4 linked regions of the Homo sapiens genome follow. The protein of the gene in region 4 purifies or fractionates together with the protein of the main gene of each other region. This does not show direct contact. Each region holds a gene or a part of one and is shown on either strand. Other genes may lie near its edges.

Region 1 (4,661 bases), on a different chromosome or scaffold from region 4:
TGACCATCCATAAAGCCTTTTGTAGACTGAAAATCCCTCTGCAAAGTGGTCAGTGCTTCGTCTACTGGAAAGGGCCTCAGAAGCCTAAGAGAGAGCCCTTTGCAGCAGGCTGCCTGGGTTCCTGAGTCACTTGGAAGAGTTCAAAGCCTTTGCTGATGATAAATCCCCTTGCAGAGGGCAGAGTGGGCTACAGTGTCAAGGGTTTTGCAAATTGCCAAGACCTTGATTATAAAGTGTTCGCTAAGACAGGAACTTTTTCATGTTGCAGAAGACTTTTGCAATCTGCAAAGGAGCTGCTAAGACTTAGGGAGCTTTGGCAGAGGGTCTTCAGGGGTTACAGTTCCCTTTGTCAGCCAAGGAAAGCCCTTTGCTGAGGCCACTGTTCCTCATGCAGTGGGGCCCCAGCCCCAGGCACACACGTCAGAGCCTTTTAGAGAGAAAAGTGCCCAGTGAGTGTGCAGATTCCCACTAATGGCTTCTTGGCATTGCAGTCCCAAGGGTGCGCTTCGCCAATGATGACCGACACCGCCTGGCCTGCTGCTCACTCGACGGCAGCATCTCCCTGTGCCAGCTGGTGCCTGCCCCACCCACAGTGCTTCGCGTGCTACGGGGCCACACCCGTGGTGTCTCCGACTTCGCCTGGTCCCTCTCCAATGACATCCTCGTGTCCACCTCACTGGATGCCACCATGCGCATCTGGGCCTCTGAGGATGGTCGCTGCATCCGAGAGATCCCTGACCCCGATAGCGCTGAACTGCTCTGCTGCACCTTCCAGCCTGTCAACAACAACCTCACTGTGGTCAGGCTCCAGGACACCCACTCACCAAGGGCTGGTGGGCTGGGTCAGGAAGGCTATCTGAGGGAATCAGAGTATAAGGAGGGACAGCCAGGGGGGGCCTAGGACCCCCCCACCCCCCACCCAATCTCGTCAGAGCAGTCCTAGTGTGGTCAGACTTAAAAGGGAAGCAGATCAGAAGACGGGAGTGGGCCAGGCGCAGTGGCTCACGCCTGTAATCCCAGCACTTTGGGAGGCGGAGGCGGGCGGATCACGAGGTCAGGAGATTGAGACCATCCTGGCTAACACGGTGAAACCCCATCTCTACTAAAAATACAAAAAATTAGCCGGGCATGGTGGCGGGCGCCTATAGTCTCAGCTACTTGGGAGGCTGAGGCAGGAGAATGGTGTGAACCTGGGAGGTGGAGCTTGCAGTGAGCCGAGATGGCACCACTGGGCGACAGAGCGAGACTCCGCCCCCACCCCCCATAAAAAGGGGAATGCCGTTCTTGATCTGGGTTGGCCTTGCTGTGGTACACTCCAGGGAGCACGGGCCAGGGTCAGGGTTCTGGCTCTGGAGCCCCTTTGGTCCCATCAGCTACAGTCCTACAGTTTTCCAACTGCAGGGGCTACCTCTGAGGAGCAGGATGATGAGGCTGAGCCTCGTCTGGTCTGTCAGTGGCCCCACCGTGTCAGACTCCAGGGTAGATTGGTCAGAGAGCAGGGGAAGGACATTAGAAAGTCTGGTGTGGCCCGGGGTGTAGTGGGGTGAACTGCAGAGGAACAGACCAAGAGTGAGCTTGTGGGCCGGGATCCTCCCCGCATTAGCAGCAGCCCCACAAGTTCCAGAAAGGAGCAGCCAGGGAGCAGGGGAAAGCTGGGATCACAGGCCTAGGCAGGCCCTATGGTTCTCACACTGTAGGAGGACTGGCCAAGGGGCAGCATGATGGCTCTGAAGGCCCTTTAGTCCCGTAGGCAGGTGGCCTACTCTGGGCAGATTGCAAAAGGGGCTGGCTAGGGAGGTGGATTCATGCCTGGTCACCTTGTCTACCTGCCACAGCCCTATTGTGAATAGACTCTAATAGGGACCAGCCAGTCGCATCAACAGCAGCCCCACTGTGGTCAGACTCAAGGAGGGCCTGGCTGGAAGCAGGATGATGGTCTGTGCATTCTCCCCACAGGTGGGGAACGCCAAGCACAACGTGCATGTCATGAACATCTCCACAGGCAAGAAAGTGAAGGGGGGCTCCAGCAAGCTGACAGGCCGTGTCCTTGCTCTGTCCTTTGATGCCCCTGGCCGGCTGCTCTGGGCGGGTGATGACCGTGGCAGTGTCTTCTCTTTCCTCTTTGATATGGCCACAGGTAGGCAGACAGCAGGCCTGCATCTGGGTGCTCGCCCTCCAGCCCTCCCAGGGCACAGCCCTCACCCTCACCTTTGCCTTCCCTCCCTCTGCTGCTGCAGGGAAGCTGACCAAAGCCAAGCGTTTGGTGGTGCATGAGGGGAGCCCTGTGACCAGCATCTCAGCCCGGTCCTGGGTCAGCCGCGAGGCCCGGGATCCCTCACTGCTCATCAATGCTTGCCTCAACAAGTTGCTGCTCTACAGGTGGGTCCCCCATCAGGGCCTCCTGGAGACGGAGGACCTGCCTCCTCCAGCACACTGGGACAGTAGCTCATCTCCTCCATCAGGTTAATTTAATTGAGGGAGCAGTAGTAGCAGTAACAGTAATAGCAGTAGTGAGCGCGTTTACAGCCATCACTGTGGCCAGGCCCTGTTCGAAGCAGTTTCCACGTATCACCACATTCAATCCTTGCACCGACCTGTGAGGTAGGTGCTGTTATTATCTCCATTTTGCAGGTGAGCAAACTGAAGCATAAAATAGATTAGGGCTACTTAAAGCAGAGACCTGTTTTCCTTTCTTCCTTCCTTCCTTTTTTTTTTTTTTTTTTTGCGGGGAGTAGTGTGGGGGTTACTGTCCCCACTCACATCTGTCATGTTACCCAAATGCAGTTCTCAGCCTGGGCCACACATTGGAATGACCTGAAGAGCTTCAAAAACTCCTGTCTGGGCCCCTCTACAGGCCAGTAATTTCAGAAGCTTTGGGATGGGCCTGGGCATTGGTAGATTGAGAAATTCCCTAAGCAATGTCTGGCCAGTCCTGAAAACCACTGCCTAACAGGATGCTTTTTATTCTACCCCTTTATTTCTCTCCTCCTTTTTAAACAATTTCTGTATATATACTTAACAATTTTTTAATTTAAGCGTACCCTTAAGTTTGCCCATTTCCCACAGCCTCTCCTTTCTTCCTCCTGCCACCTCTGGCCTCCTCCTGCCACAGTAAAGCCCATTAATGATCCACATCTTTCCACATATCCTTCTCTTTCCACAAATCCTAGGCGTGTACATATATCCATGTATGTTTTTGTTTGTTTGTGAGACAGGGTTTTGCTGTTACCCAGATTGGAGTGCAGTGGCATGATCATGGCTCACTGCAACCTCCAACTCCTGGGCTCATGCGATTCTCCCACCTCAGCCTAAGTAGCTGAGATTACAGGCACACGCCACCATGCTCGGCCAACCTTTTTAATCTATTTTTTGTAGAGATGAGGTTTTGCTGTGTTACTCAGTCTGGTCTTAAACTCTTGGCCTCAAGTGATCCTTGTACCTTGGCCTCCCAAAGTGCTGGGATTACAGACGTGAGCCACCTTGCCTAGCTCCCACCACAGTTTTGAAAGAAAGACGTTTTAAAGAAATGGCCTTTTCCGGCCAGGCACAGTGGCGCACTCCTGTAATCTCAGCACTTTGGGAGGCCAAGGCGGGTGGATCACCTGAGGTCAGGAGTTCAAGACCAGCCTGGCCAACATGGTGAATCCCCGTCTCTACTAAAAATACAAAAATTAGCTGGGCATGGTGGCAGGCGCCTATAATCCCAGCTACTTGGGAGGCTGAGGCTGGAGAATTGCTTGAACTTGGGAGGCGGAGGTTGCAGCGAGGCGAGATCGTGCCATTGCACTCCAGCCTGGGTGACAGAGCCAGACTCCATCTCTTAAAAAAAGAAAGAAAAAAGAAATGGCCTTTCCTACATTTCGAGTTTCTCACCAGGCAATGCCTTGTGGAAACCCCCCCAGGTTACCTGTGGGGACAGTGTTTTATTCTCTCTAAGGGCTGTGCAGTTTTCCACAGTGTGGGCATACCATGGTGTGTTCATTTCCTCTCTTTGTGCTTATCTTAATACCAGGATCTTTTAGAGACCCTTACAAAGAAAAACTAGTGAATGAAACTGCAGAGGCTCCCATTTATATCAACAGAGACAGTTTCTGAACCATCAGTAACTCACACATCAGCCCCTACTTATAGTTTATGTAGTCATCTCAGAATTGGGTTTCATAAGCTGGGTGTGGTGTGTGCCTATAGGTAGTCCCGGCTACTCGGGAGACTGAGGCGGGAGGATCACTTGAGCCTAGGAGGTTGAGGCTGCAGTGAGCCGTGATCGCACCACTACACTCCAGCCTGGGTGACAGAGTGAGATCCTGTCTCAAAAACAAAAAAAAAAATATGGGTTTCATGAACCCTGTAAAGAACTTAGGCACAGGGGTGGGGACACAGGCCCACAACTTGTCTCCCTGCTAGGGCTGGGGCTGTGTTTTGACCCACTCTCTCATCCTCTCAGGGTGGTAGACAACGAGGGGACCCTGCAGCTGAAGAGAAGCTTCCCCATCGAGCAGAGCTCACATCCTGTGCGCAGCATCTTCTGTCCCCTCATGTCCTTCCGCCAGGGGGCCTGCGTGGGTGAGTCCTGTAGGGACAGGGGATCTGGGTGGCTGGGGAGGGGCAGGAACCAGGGCTGGTGCCAACCTGGCTCAGACATCACGACACCGATGCCCTGA
Region 2 (5,093 bases), on a different chromosome or scaffold from region 4:
ATATTTGCTACATGCCTATTGTATACAAGGCCTTGGTGACAAAATGTTGACCAATACAGACATGATCCTAGCCCTGACAGGTTACATAATAGTGGGAGATACAGAACGGTAAACAGGCAATTATCACGTGGTATGATATATATAAAAGGAAGTTTATAGCGTTTTAGGAGCTCATAAAAGGAGAACCAATTCCATGCTTGGAAAAGTGATGTCTAAGTGGGACTAGAGCTTTGGAGTTCTCTAAACCCGAGTTCAAATCCTGGTTTTACAGGTTACACTCTATAACCCTGGCCAATTTATTTAATCTCTCCAGGCCTCAGTTTCACCAACTTTAAAATAGGAATTATGATAGTATTGAGTTCAAAGAGTTGATGTGAGTATTAATGAAATGCACATCATAAATCTGGTATGGTGTATGGCAAGTGGCAAGTACCCAATAAATATTAGCTAATAATAGTGATAACAGTAAGCTGAGAACTTAAGACAGATAAAAGGGAAGAGAGGAAAGAGGAAGAGTACCCGGACAAAATAAAAGCAATAGTCTGGTGAGCTTCAGTGAAAGAACCTCGCTCGATCCATGGATCAGGGGATGCTTGGGGTGGGATCAGAGGTGAAGCTGAAGCTGGAAAGGCAAGCACAGCCCAGCTCAATGGGTTTATCTAAGCTCAGTGGGGGCCCCTTGAGAATTTTAGTCAGAGAAGGGACAGGATCAGATCTGAGTTTTTAAAAGACCAGCTTGGCTACAGTGTGGGAATGGAATGGAAAATTGACAAGACTAGAGGCAGAGATCAGTGACAATAATTTTAAAATAATTCCTTGGCTACTGTGGATTTTCACAGTTGGGAATGCAGACATCACATGAAAAAAATATACAGCAATCCATAGAGGGTCTTGAAGTAACTATCTTCTTGTATTAGCATTTCATTCATCATTCATTCATTCATCCACTCACTCAACAAGCATTAACACCTACCAAGGCGGTGAGCTGGTGCCGTGAGAGATTTCTACAAGCATTGCCCTACATGACTCTGCCCTCCAGAAGCATCCCATCCAACACTGACTGCCCATATTCCTCTCCCTGCCTGGGAGGCCTGTTACCCTGGTGACCCAGATCATGTGCAATGCAAAGGCAGGCACCAGCAGGAGACCCAAACCCAGAGGCAGTATCACATAGTAGAGAGATGTCACTAACTACATCAGTGTATAGCTGACTTCTTATTAACGGAGTAAATCTTCCCTGATCCATAGTTAAGTGAATAATAATAGTCAACATTCATCAAATGTCCTGTCCTGTGAATTTCAGGTAGATTAATACATCTATTACAACAACTTTGTGAAACAGGTATTATTATGTCCACTGTATAGATGCGAAAACTGAGGCAAGAGACACTCCCTAAAGGTCACAGAATTAGAAAGTGGTAGAGCTGAGATTCAGTCTAATGTTTTTATCCACTACACCATGTGACTTCTGGCAGTGGGCCACCAGGCTGATATCAGAATTAAACCAATTTAAAATGTATGCTTCAAAATCTAGGCAGGGGAAAAAGATCACTGCTCACTTAGGTATCAGGGAGGCCAAAGCTTGGAAGCTTTTATTATAGGAATAAAATGAAATGGGTGAATAAATATGGTGACAGTCTCTTGAGAAGAAATTGGACTACTCTCATCAAAAGAGTGCCATTTTGAAAGGGTTTTGAAATCGATTTTGCTCTTTTAAGTTCAAACCATAGCTCTGCCATTTGGCCTAGAACGCATTAGAAAGTATTCAAATGGGATTACATTCCTTATCAGTTTAAAAGAGTGGGACATCTCACAGACTCAAAGATGGAGAGGTGTGGCAAAGACATCAAAGGGCTAGCAGAGATCTGTTACTCTTTTGGTTTTCTGTTAATGGAGGGTGAAATAAAAGCTGATTATCTCGATGAGAAATTAGTAGAATATGCTTATTTTCTCAGACCATGTGGCATTCCATCAACCAAGTAGTGGAGCAGGTGAGGAATAAGCATATTTTATCATAAGCTCTATGAGGCATTTCCAATGTGAAGTGAATACAGACAAAATAGAAAAAAAATTCTTAAATCTCCAGAAATGAAAGAAACCACTAGCTTCTTGCAATGCCACTGGATGCCAATAGCAACGGAGTCTTGAGCCTGGGCTCTTAACTGGCAATGAGAAGAATCCCAGGCCAGATGGCATTTTAAAATCCAATCTCACTCTATTTGTCTCTCCCCACTAACCTACATTGCACTTAAAGCAATCAGCCATTTCACAAGCTGCAGTATTTCAAAGTAGTTACAACCCTTGAGAACAGAAAAACTCTCTTAATTGCTGTGAGTTTAAAAATATAGAGAATAAAAATTATGGAATTTGTGAAACAACCATCTCTAATTAAACACGCTCGCTAGCACACACACCCAACACCGCACAGAGTACAGCTTTTCAAACCTAGCCCATTCATGCACACATTTAGCACAGCTCACCAACAAAACACTTTTCCTTCCATTCATTCACTTACTAGTCCCGTTCTTTGGGACTCACTCGCCACCACTGAAAACTAACTTGAGAAGCCCCAGGTCTGTGGGCACCGACACCCCGTTAATTCATCCAGCTTGTCCTGCTCCGAGCGCCAGGCAGGACTTGGGGGCTTCGGTGTCACGACTGGCGCTGCCCCCTGGAGGGACGCCCAGCCTCCACCCGCCCTACCGGAGCGGCACCCCTCGCGGCCCTCGCTCCCTGGGAAACACTCAGAGTTGCACTGTCGTCGCTGCCGTTTAATTTTCACAAATAAAAATGCCCGTGAGACGGAATCCCCCGCCCACCCACCTGCCCGAGACCGTACAACCACATTGAATCGGATCCTCCAGAAGGCTGCCGGCAGCCGGGAGGTGTGAACAATGAACTTCTCTCTGACTCTCTGACACACACACACACACACACACTCGCCCCCCGACGGGAAGTTGTGAACTACTAGCCCGAGGGCCAATGGCGCGACTCCCCAGGCAACACGGCGGCCGGCGGCGGGGGAGGGCCTGGCGCGCGCCCCGGCCGCGCCCCTCGAGTCGGCAGTTACCTCCTTCCTCCGGCTCGGCGCCCCGGGTCGGGTGATGAGGGCCGTCTCCTCGCACACCACGGCCACGTCCTCCACGAAGACGCAGTCCGGAAGGCTCTCGTCGGCCGGCAGCTCCACCACCTGCAGCCCCAGCTTGCTGCCCAGCACGCCCACGTAGAGCTGGTGCTGCCGTTCCGCGCGGGCGACGTCCACCTCCTCGCCCTTGGCGCTTCTCAGCGCGTGCTGGCCGAGCGACTCGGGTAGCGCCCGCACCACGGCGTGGGTGGCCCGGCCGAAGGCGGCGGGGTGGCCGAGCCCGGCCATGGCTTCGGGAGGCTTAGGGGCGGCGGCGGCGGCGGAGGCGGCCGGGTCCTGCCGCGGGCAGCGCGCGCTGAGCCTGCGAGCGCCCGTCGGCTCCTCTTGGCAGCCGCTGAATGTGGTGCAGAAGGAGCCCAGCTCGCGCCCGGAGCCCTGCCCGCGCGACTGAGCATGCCCAGAGCTCCGGGCGCCGGCCCGCGCGCATCCCGCGCGCCCACTCCGGCGCTCGCGGGTCTCGCGCCAGCCCAGGCGGGAGTTGTAGCGGCGAGCGCCGGGCGAGGAGTGGGGCCAGGAGAGGCGGCCGGGGAAGCAGCGAGGGCAAGAAGTATGCGGAGGCGGGGGACCTCGGCGAAAAGCCACCGCTACCCGGACCTGGCGGTACCTGTGTTCTGTCGCAGGTGCACACCTCCCATCGTCCCCAGCGCGGACTTGGAGAGCCGGCCTCGGTCTGGACAGAGCAGCTGGAGGGCTTCCTGGTCTTTACCTGAACAGTTTAAACCTTGCGTGCTTACAAAGTCTAGCCCACTTTTGAAGAGCTATAATGGTTTACAGATTCTTCATGTTGAGCTTAAATCCCACGGGTCCCAGTTCTGTTTTCTGGCCTTACCTAAAGTACAAGTTTTTCTTGTTTTGTGTGTGTTCGCGTGTGTGTGTGTTTTCACAAAACAGCATTTGCATATCTGAAAACAGTTCTAATTATCTATGCTGCCTAACACCATCCTCTACCCCCCACCCTAAACCCCCTCCAGTCCTGGAGCCCAAACCACTGAAAAGTAACTAGTGATTTGGTTTCCAAGTCCCTTCAACATTCTGGTCAGCTTCCTTTTGATACACACCAATTTGCTTGTATCCTTTTAAAATCATAGTATCCGGAAAATAAACAATTCTTCCTGTGTGGTCTGACCAGCACAGACTACAGCAGCACCCTTGTTCCAGATGCTGGGCCTCTATGAACACTGCCTAAGCCTGTATTCACTTTTTTGGTGGTCTAGGGCCAAGGCCCAGGCTACAGCCTTCTTGCCAGAACTCTGATCCCAGCTTTTAGGAAACTCTGGATTTCTAGGAGCAGGTCTCTCTGAGCATCCTAGAATGGTTGCCCCAACTGAGCCCAGAGATGTGATCTGCCTTCTCTCCCCTCCCACAAGGGTGGTGTGAATTTATAAATGAGCTTCAAAATTCTCAGCTTCACATTTGAGGAGTTTTTTTTGTTTTTTGTTGTTGTTTTGTTTTGACGGAGTTTCACTCTTGTTGCCCAGGCTGGAGTGCAGTGGCACGATCTCGGCTTACTTCAACTGCTGCCTCCCCAGTTCAAGCAATTCTCCTGCCTCAGCCTCCTGAGTAGCTGGGACTACAGGTGCACGCCACCACTCGCGGCTAATTTGTATTTTTAGCAGAGACAGGGTTTCACCATGTTGGCTAGGCTGGTCTCGAACTCCTGACCTCAGGTGATCCACCCGCCTCCACCTCCCAAAGTGCTGGGATTACAGGCATGAGCTACCACGCCCTGCCCAAATTTGAGGAGTCTCAAGGACAGCTCTGACACTGACATTGGGAAGTGGGACCAAAAGTAAAATAACAAACCTTTAAGACCGACTAGGTAGTACTTCTAAAGCAAAATTCTTAGGGGATCCAGGCAGCCCCATTAGCCCCAGTTTAGCGTCAGAAATCACTTAATGGTGTCCTCAGATGGAGGATTTCCATCAAAGTTACAGGTGAAAGTTGATCT
Region 3 (4,661 bases), on a different chromosome or scaffold from region 4:
ACTTAAGGCCAGGAGTTCGAGACCAGCCTGGCTAACATGGTGAAAGCCCATCTCTACTAAAAATACAAAAATTAGCCAGGTTTGGTGGCACACACCTGTAGTCCCAGATACTAGGGAGGCTGAGACAGGAGAATTGCTCGAACCCGGGAGGTAGAGGTTGCAGTGAGCCGAGGTCTCGTCACTGGACTCCAGCCTAGGCGAGAGTGAGACTCCGTCTCAAAAAAAAAAAAATTAGAGAGGTAAAACACAAATGAGGTTGAAAGAGAATAAAGAGCAGAGTGTGAGGCAGAGCCAGGATGGCCGATGGAAGGGCTGCGGCTTGCAAGCATGAGATGGGGCGTGCGGTTCTCTGGAATCAGATGGTACACCACACAGGGACGTGTGCCTTGTGTGTTCCTATGCAGCTCAGTTCAACTGGGTGTGCTTTTGTGTTCACCTAGTGCTTCCCACAGGCAAAATTACACATAAACTCATGTTATGCTCAGAGCATGCCAGCAGGACTGCCCCTCCGCCAAGAGCGCTGACTTGACCCTCTCCTCAACCTCAACCCTAGACCTCAGGCCTGCTTCTGTCCCTCCTGATTTCTACCGTCTGCTAAGCTCTAGCACTGCTCCCTCCAAAGTGATCTTTTTTTAAAGGGAAAGGATATGGGTCAGTATATCAAGCTAGGGAAGTGGACATAGGTGGTTTATTTTCAGTTGCCAAGCAGGTCACTTGGAAAGGGCTCGTGGTCTAGGCAAACTGTGTCAGCCACTATCTACCAAGAATGAACAAGCCCTGCCACTTCCACCTCCCAACTCTCAGAGTAAAATTCTTTTCAACTTTGTGATCAGAAAGAAATGGTAAGTCCAATATGCAAGATTTTTCCACCACCATTTGTCCAAAGACAAACACTTTTTTTTGTACCAATCTTTATGTATTTATTCACACATTTGATAAAAATGTCACAGTTAGGAGTGAAATCATTACAATGACATGAGTAACTGTACAGACAGACCCCAAGTGCAGAATCAAATTGCCCTAAGTCAGAACATGGAGCAACCGCAACTCCTTCGCACTTGTGCATGTGTGTGCGCTCGCAGACGCACACACACACACACATATTCTCTCTCTCTCTTATGCACACATCCATCCACATCCCAACAATTGCAGGTGCTAAGTTTGGACATAACCCAGGGACTCTTCCCTGACTTCTGTCAGGTCCTGGAAAGAAGAAGTAATAAATGAAAAGCAGCTGGGACTGCTCGATGCATCTCTCCTCTTCCAACAATGACGCGGAGAAGGCAAGACATACACTGGGGCAGCTACTTCCTTGGCACAAAAATGAACAGGCAACAAGAAGGTCAAGGAAGTGTTTAAGTTAGTCTCAGGTTTAAACCACTTTTCAACACCACAAAACAGTAGCAAGCAGGAAAACAAAAACAAAAACAAAAACAAAAACTCTGGCCCTCAAGACTCCAGAAAAAAGGGAAGGAGGAGGATTTAAAACTTGATCCCTATTATTCTAACAAATTGCAGCATGACCATAAGCAAAACCAGCTCGGTCAAACTGACAGCATCAGATTGTGACCTTATCTGAACAGTGTAGTTCACTTTTATTTTGGCTCTGAAGAGAGGAAGAAAAACTTTTTAGAGGAACTTAATGGTAACATAAACCAAATCTCCACTGTATTAGTATTTGAGACAAGATTACATCTATGCATTCACACAGCTTGTCTGTAGATCTGAGAGCTCCAAGGGAGTGGCCCAGCCCCCATTCCTCTGACTTTAGCCTTCTGAAAAGAACAAGTCAAACCTGAAATATGAAAAATAATACCTGAATCAAAATGGTGTTTTCTATACAATCGGACTAGGGTAGAATCCTGCTCAATTCCTCAACTCCTATTTGACACAAAAGTTAAAAAATTTTTAAACTAAATTTAAATGTGATGTTTTGAGCATCAAAAAGCTACTATCTAAAAGGATTAGTCTCCCAGTGTTCTTGGTAAATGGGGAAGGTTAGGAAGGAGGCAATGATCCAATGAATATAGAAGAACTGGCCGATTCACAGGAAACTTGCTTTGGATAAGGTGAGTCAATGGGTGATATTGTGCAGGCAGGGAGGGAAATTTCTTTGTACAAATTCATGTCCCTGGCCAGGCATGGCCCAGGAGTTCAAGACCAGCCTGGGAAACAGAGTGAAACTCCATCTCTACTTAAAAAAAAAAAAAATTAATAATAACTTCATGTCTCTAGAGATAAAAGCAAGGTGCGGACAAGGCACTTAACATAGCCAAGTATCGTTCACACCCATTCACATCATGATTGTTACCAAGAGCACTCCCAGTAGCCCCTCATTTGAGAGACTCAACTGGCCAACTATACTTTCCAGGTGGACCTGGAGAACTGAAGGAAATCCAAAGCGCTGCACAATCGATGGTGGGATTTGGAATGTCAGCAGAGGAAACTACTCAGAGAAGCAAATGGAGGTCATCCCCTTCTGGCCTGAGGTGAGAGGTTTGTTCCAGATTAGCTCAGTGAGATACCGAATTTCAAAACAGTTGGCCTGAGAATATGACAACACTCCCACAAATGTAGCCTTCTTCTGTTTTGATAAGAGCAATAAGGGCTCTGAATGAAATGGGACATCAGTTATTGAATTATCTTGCACTGGAAGTTACAGCAGATGCCTTCTAATACATGTGGCATGTCCCCCTTCTACAGCAGAGTGATAACGGACTGAGACAGGGCTAGAAGCACCTTGTCCCTTCTTATCCCAAAGCCTGTCAAGCATACTCAATCCGAGCAGGGCCACAGCTGCCCTCGTTCTTTCGCTCAGAGGACTGGCTGGTGGCCTTGGCTTCACTACTCATTTCCAGAGGCTTAGCTGAGATGTAGTCCTTTACTTTAATCTCCATATTCTTGGCTTTCAGAGTGGCCATGTGCAGCTTCTCCAGGAAATCTGGCATGCCTGTCAGGAGACGAGAATCAGGTTAAGCTGACATACAAACCAACAGTAGGCTCAAAATGAGAAGACCCTATTTCTTTGATGGTAGGGAACTAGTTCTTCCTTATAAAGATCACAACCTGACTAGCCTGTGAATAAGAGCTGCCTCCCGGAATGTGTTCCCAAAGCATGGGTTGTGAAAACTCTGTCTCAGAAAAAAAAAAAAAAGAAGAACCAGAAGAGACGTTTTATTTCCCCATTAGGAAATAGAGAAAAACAAAATGCTCAACCCAGGTTCCAGGCCCTGTATACTTGCCCTTACTTACCACTGGAAACCATCCAACTAACACAGTAGCGAGGAAACACCGTTTGGGGATTGTCACTGTATGTTAGTAAGTAGTCAAAGCCATTCTGGAAAAGAAAAACAGCAAAAATGAAGATCCCTGAATCACCAACCACAACCTCCATATCCAGTACCATAGAATAACTATGATCTGATTCTGGAGCAGGGAGTGTCATTTCTTTTTTCACCCTGTGCAGAAAAGAGTTAACACTGAAGGCCTGAGAGACTACTATCTATAGAAAGGTCTCCTTGCAATGTTGACCCTTGGCCAACTTCGCTCCCAGTCAACAGTTAGCTGATATGGGTGGCTCCCTGTGCATAGACTATGCAAACAACGTGGTTTATGCTGAACACAGGCTTTGCTTTGCAGGGTTTGGAATTCTGGTATGTGCTAAGCAGACGGTACTAAGTGACCAGCTCCCAATAAAAATTTTGGGTGTTAGGCCAGGCATGGTGGCTCATGCCTACAATCCCAGCACTTTGGGAGGCCGAGGCAGGCGGATCACCTGAGGTCAAGAGTTCAAGACAAGCCTGGCCAACATGGTGAAACCCCATCTCTACCAAAAATACAAAAATTAACCGGCCATACTGGCACACACCTGTAGTCCCAGCTACTCGGGAGGCTGAGGCACAAGAATTGCTTGAACCCGGGAGGCAGAGGTTGCAGTGAGCCAAGATCTAGCCACTGCATTCCAGCCTGGGAAACAGAGCGAGACTCCGTCTCAAAAAATAAATAAATAAATAAATAAATTGGGTGTTGGCTGGGCGTGGTGGCTCATGCCTTATAATCCCAGCACTTTGGGAGCCCAAGGCAGGCAGATTACTTGAGGACCAGAGTTCGAGACCAGCCTGGCCAACATGGTGAAATCCCATCTCTACTGAAAGTTAAAAAATTAGCTGGGCGTGGTGGTACACGCCTGTAATCCCAGTTACTTGGGAGTCTGAGGCAGGAGAATCGTTTGAACCGGGAGGCAGAGGTTGCAGTGAGCACAGATTGAGCCACTGTACTCCAGCCTGGGTGACAGACCAAGACTTTTTTTTTTTTTTTTTTTTTTTTTTGAGACAGAGTTTCGTTCTTGTTGCCCAGGATGGAGGGCAATGGCACAATCTCGGCTCACCACAACCTCCACCTCCTGAGTTCAAGTGATTCTCCTGCCTCAGCCTCCCCAGTAGCTGAGATTACAGGCATGCACCACCATGCCCAGCTAATTTTGTATTTTCAGTAGAAACGGGGCTTCTCCATCTTGGTCAGGCTGGTCTCGAACTCCCGACCTCAAGTGATCCACCCACCTTGGCCTCCCAAAGTGCTGGGATTACAAGCGTGTGCCACTGCACCCAGCCAAGACTCCGTCTTTAAAAAACACTTTGGGCTGGGTGTGGTGGCTCACGTCT
Region 4 (4,661 bases):
CACCAATTATCCCAGTGCTTTAGAGGCTGAGGCAGGAGGATTGCTTAAGACCAGAAGTTCAAGACCAGCCTGGCAACAGAGTAAGGTCCTGTCTCTACAAAAAAATTAAAAAATTAGTGGAGCATGGTGATGCATGCCTGTAGCCCTAGCCTACTCAGGGGGCTGCGGGAGGAGAATCACTTGGGCCCAGGACTTCAAGGCTACTAGTGAGCTATGATTGTGCTACTGCACCCCACCTGGGTGACAGAATGAGACAGTATCTCCAAAAAAAAATAGGCCAGGCACAGTGGCTCATGTCTGTAATCCCAGCACTTTGGGAGGCCGAAGCAGGGGGATCATTTGAGATCAGGAGTTCAAGACAAGCCCGGCCAGTATGGCAAAACCCCATCTCTACTAAAAATACAAAAATTAGCCAGGCATGGTGGCAGGTGCCTGTAATCCCAGCTATTTGGGAGGCAGGAGAATCGTTTGAACCTGGGAGGCGGAGGCTACAGTGAGCCAAGATATCACACTACTGCACTTCAGCCCGGGAGACAGAGTAACACTCTGTCTCAAATAAATAAATAGGTCAGGTGCAGTGGCTTATGCCTGTAATCCCAGCACTTTGGGAGGCCGAGGTGGGCGGATCACCTGAGGTCAGGAGTTCGAGACCAGCCTGACAAACATGGTGAAACCCCATCTCTACTAAAAGCACAAAAATTAGCTAGGTGTGGTGGTGTGTGCCTGTAATCCCAGCTACTCAGGAGGCTGAAGCAGGAGGACTGCTTGAACCTGGGAGGTGGAGGTTGCAGTGAGCCAAGATCACACCACTGCCCTCTAGCCTGGGCAATAGAGCAAAAATCCATCTATAAATAAATAAATAAATACACACTAGTCACATCCATGCAGGAATTAGGTTTAAAAAAAAAAAAAAGGCAAAACAGCCCTAAAACCAAAGTGAAACTGAAGAAAGTGATCAAGGTAGAAAGTTAGCTGGGTAGAGTGCCATGGTGTGCCCTTCAGATATCTCGTAACAAATACGAGGGGTTCCCAAGAGAAGCATCCAAAGAGATGAGGATTGAATATAAATTGAGATGGACATCGCTCTCCCCAGCTGGATGCTTGCCTAGGTAAGGAAATGCACAAGCAGCTGCCAGAGCAGAGTGTGGAAGAGTTCATGGGAGAACTTGATATAAGTCCCCAGGAGAAAGGGGTATGCATGACAAAGACAGAAACCAGTGCCTGCTTCTTGCTTGCAGAAGTCTGAGGACAGGAGGCTGACTGAGGCTGCCCATGCAGCAAGGGGTGGCGAAAGGAGATGTTATGTTTCCTGTGGCCTGCACGGACACCATAAAAGATGACCCAATAAGAAATGTCCCAGGCCAGGCACAGTGGCTCACACCTGTAATCCCAGCACTTTGGGTGGCCGAGACAGGTGGATCACTTGAGGTCAGGAGTTCAAGACCAGCCTGGCCAACATGGTGAAACCCCGTCTCTACTAAAAATACAAAAATTAGCTGAGTGTGGTGGTCCACGCTTGTTACCCAGTTACTTGGGAGGCTGAGGCAGGACGATCGCTTGAATCCAGGAGGCAAAGGTTGCCAGGAGCCAAGATATCGTGCCACTGCACTCCAGCCCAAGTGACAGAGCGAGACTCTGTCTCAAAAAAAAAAAAAAAAAGTCCTGAAAGGACCCCACCCAAGAAGGCTAAGGGCAAGAGCAAGGCGGTGTCGGCAGAATGCAGGGTTGTGAGTTGCTTCCCCAGAGTCATAAGAGGTTAGTCAAAGACTGGAGAAGTGTGGAGGTCCCCATGGGAGTCTTGAAGAACCCACCAATAAGACCCTCAACAAAGAGCTAGCACGTCAGCATCTACCATACAAAGGCCCCAGTAACTAACTGGTCACTTAAGGCTGCTGTTTCACTCTAATCTTTCATTCTTCTCATTCTGACCCTAGAGATGTCAGGCAAACAGAGAAAGAAGGAGGAAGAAAAGGGAAAGAACACATCACTCCTCCTTTTCCACTGCTGATCCCTGGATGAGGCCTGAGCTAGAGGAAAGGGAAAGCTTTAATTTCCATAGAAGTTTTTATTTAGACTGGACTGCATTTTTTAAATACCTAAATATGAAGCTATTCAAACCCCTGAAGGCAAAAGAAAGCTATGGAACATCAAAAGGCCAGGAATGGGGATCCAACAGAATTTGTGTAAAGGAACTGGTGAAAATTTTTCAAGATGTTTCATGATTGTGTCCTACTGCATTGCATCCATTTTAGAAAATGCTTACACTTTTAACTGTTTAATCTTTCATATCACACAAGCCTCACCTTTGAAAAAAGGCCTTCTGCCTCTATATTGTATCCTTTAAGGTCCTCGTGTAATTTCTGCAAACACTGTATGACTCTTCTTTGATGTTCATCATCCTTTAGCTCATGAGCTTTGATCAGAAAATCATAGTGGTCCAGAGGTCCATGGCAAACGGCCAAAGCTTTCAAATAAGTCTCTGAAGTGGCAGTTGGGGTCATGCTCTCGGATGTCTGAACCGTATAGGCTATAAACAAAAACATAAAATTTTAGACTTTCTTAAATACATTTTCACAGTGCTCTACACATTTCTTAAGGGTCAAATTCAAACTTTTAACTAGTTACAAGTATATCTATTGGAGCAGTTTTTGTAAATGTCATTTTGATAAAAATAATATAAAATACATTTTCAGCCAGGCATGGTGGCTCACGCCTGTAATTCCAGCACTTTGGGAGACCAAGGCAGGCAGATCACTTGAGGTCAGGAGTTCAAGATCATCCTGGCCAAATGGTGAAACCACATCTCTACTAAAAACACAAAAATTAGCTGGGCATGGTGGTGCATGCTTGTAATCCCAGCTACCTGGGGGGCTGAGGCACGAATTGCTTGAACCTGGGAGGCAGGGGATGAAGTGAGCAGAGATTGTGCCACTGTACTCCAGCCTGGGTGACAGAGTGACACTCGGTCTCAAAAAAAAAATAATTAAACAATGAATATATTTCTAATTGTTTTATTTTAACAAAAGGAAACAAACCCCAAACCCATAAACTATAATTGTAACCTCTCTTCCAGAAGGCCTATTCCTACTACAGCTTCTGCTTTGCTTCCAGTCCACTGAAGGAGACACTGGGGTTCCTCATCTCCTTCCCAAAGCAAGAGAGTTGCCTTTCTTTGAGTAAACCCTAATTCTGGTTCTTAAGCACCAAGACAAAGACGTGAAGACTAGTCCCAAGGGTTTTCCACTGTTCCTTAATTCTCTACTCAAAGACAACATAACATTCAGATATTACCACATCGATTTCAGCCCTCTGCTTCTGAGATCTTTTTCTGTTTTCCATAACCTTTACGGAGTTGGACATGGAATTGAGACACAGCAAGAGTGTCTGCTTCAAAGCAGGGTGGTGTTCTGATCCTATTTTTGGCCTCTCCTGGGAGAGAAATGATTGTGGCGAGGTCCAACCATAATTCCATTCCTTATGTGGGGCAGGTTTAATAAGCAGCTAACTCCTTCTCTACTGTTTAGAAGCAACAATAAACAGCAGCAACCTGGCACATTTTTCAGAACAAGATTTCCCAAAGGTACTCTGCCAGCATTTTATTCATTTCATTGAACATCATGTTTCCTTTGTCACAATAACATAAAAATTACTTTAGCAAAAAGAATTAACAATCACAATGTTAGGTCCATGTTTTCCCCAAAAGAGGGGGAAAAGTCCTTAAATATATCATGAATGTTGGAGATAGGGACGGCTGTCTTCCATTATTTGTTCCACCTTTCTAAATAGAAGTTTTAGCTGGATGCATGGCTGCCCAGACACATATTACATCTCCTGGCCTCTCTTGCAGTCAGGTATGGCCATGTGAGCAGGTTCTAACAATGGGATATGAGCAGAAACGTGTGTAGTTCTGACATACCCCATTAAAGGAAAAGGGCATATCCTCCTGGCTCCCTTTTCCTCCCTTCTCTCTAACTGGAGTGAAAGTGTAATGACTGCAGCTGGAAGAGGCAATGAGATGCACACAGAATGTTGAATGAAGCAGAGCAACAAGATACACAAAGCCTGGTTCTCCAACAATGCTGAGCTGCCAAACCAGCTTTGGATTGCCTACCTGGATTTTTATGTAAAAGAATAATAAACTTCCGGCCAGGCACAGTGGCTCACACCTGTAATCCTAGCACTTTGGGAGGCTGAGACAGGCAGATCACTTGAGCTCAGGAGTTCGAGACCAGCCTGGGCAACATAGTAGGACCTCATCTCTACTAAAAATAACAAATTTAAAAAAAATTTGTTTTTAATTAGCCAGGCTTAAAATTAGCATGTGCCTGTAGTCCCAGCTACTTGGGGAGGCTGAGGTAGGAGGACGGCTTAAGCCCAGGAGTTTGAGGCTGCAGTGAGCTATGACCTACACCACTGCACTCCAGCCCGGGCAACAGAGTGAGACTCTCTCTCCAAAAGAAATTAAAAGGGAGTAATAAACTTCTATCTTGCTTTTAAAGTAGTGTATAATTGGGGTCTCTGTTACAGAAGCCTAAGTTGTACCCTAACTGATATAGTTGCTTAAGGCCTGTAAAACAGAATCTAAGGGTATCCTGGAACACTAGGCCTCACAGTACCAGGATAAGGTTTGGGTTCAATGTTGAAGCTGGAGATGCAGGTTG

What was found.
Region 1: the proteins of AFG1L (region 4) and WDR13 fractionate together in Homo sapiens (co-fractionation; one large-scale study listed by BioGRID). This does not show direct contact.
Region 2: the proteins of AFG1L (region 4) and DDAH1 purify together in Homo sapiens (affinity purification with mass spectrometry, with the first as the bait; one large-scale study listed by BioGRID). This does not show direct contact.
Region 3: the proteins of AFG1L (region 4) and STARD7 purify together in Homo sapiens (co-immunoprecipitation; one large-scale study listed by IntAct). This does not show direct contact.

What each region holds. Positions count from the first base shown.
Region 1 is NC_000023.11:48,599,828-48,604,488, forward strand, and holds part of WDR13 (WD repeat-containing protein 13), read left to right. Parts: intron 1-491; coding exon 492-799; intron 800-1,956; coding exon 1,957-2,137; intron 2,138-2,237; coding exon 2,238-2,379; intron 2,380-4,444; coding exon 4,445-4,563; intron 4,564-4,661.
Region 2 is NC_000001.11:85,461,673-85,466,765, forward strand, and holds the start of DDAH1 (N(G),N(G)-dimethylarginine dimethylaminohydrolase 1), read right to left. Parts: upstream 3,488-5,093; 5' UTR 3,374-3,487; coding exon 3,071-3,373; intron 2,928-3,070; exon of another isoform or gene 2,848-2,927; coding exon of another isoform or gene 2,824-2,847; intron 1-2,823. UniProt on the Homo sapiens protein: Hydrolyzes N(G),N(G)-dimethyl-L-arginine (ADMA) and N(G)-monomethyl-L-arginine (MMA) which act as inhibitors of NOS. Has therefore a role in the regulation of nitric oxide generation.
Region 3 is NC_000002.12:96,183,965-96,188,625, forward strand, and holds the end of STARD7 (stAR-related lipid transfer protein 7, mitochondrial isoform 1 precursor), read right to left. Parts: intron 3,338-4,661; coding exon 3,253-3,337; intron 2,951-3,252; coding exon 2,766-2,950; 3' UTR 895-2,765; downstream 1-894. UniProt on the Homo sapiens protein: May play a protective role in mucosal tissues by preventing exaggerated allergic responses.
Region 4 is NC_000006.12:108,321,691-108,326,351, reverse strand, and holds part of AFG1L (AFG1-like ATPase), read right to left. Parts: intron 2,528-4,661; coding exon 2,304-2,527; intron 1-2,303. UniProt on the Homo sapiens protein: Putative mitochondrial ATPase. Plays a role in mitochondrial morphology and mitochondrial protein metabolism.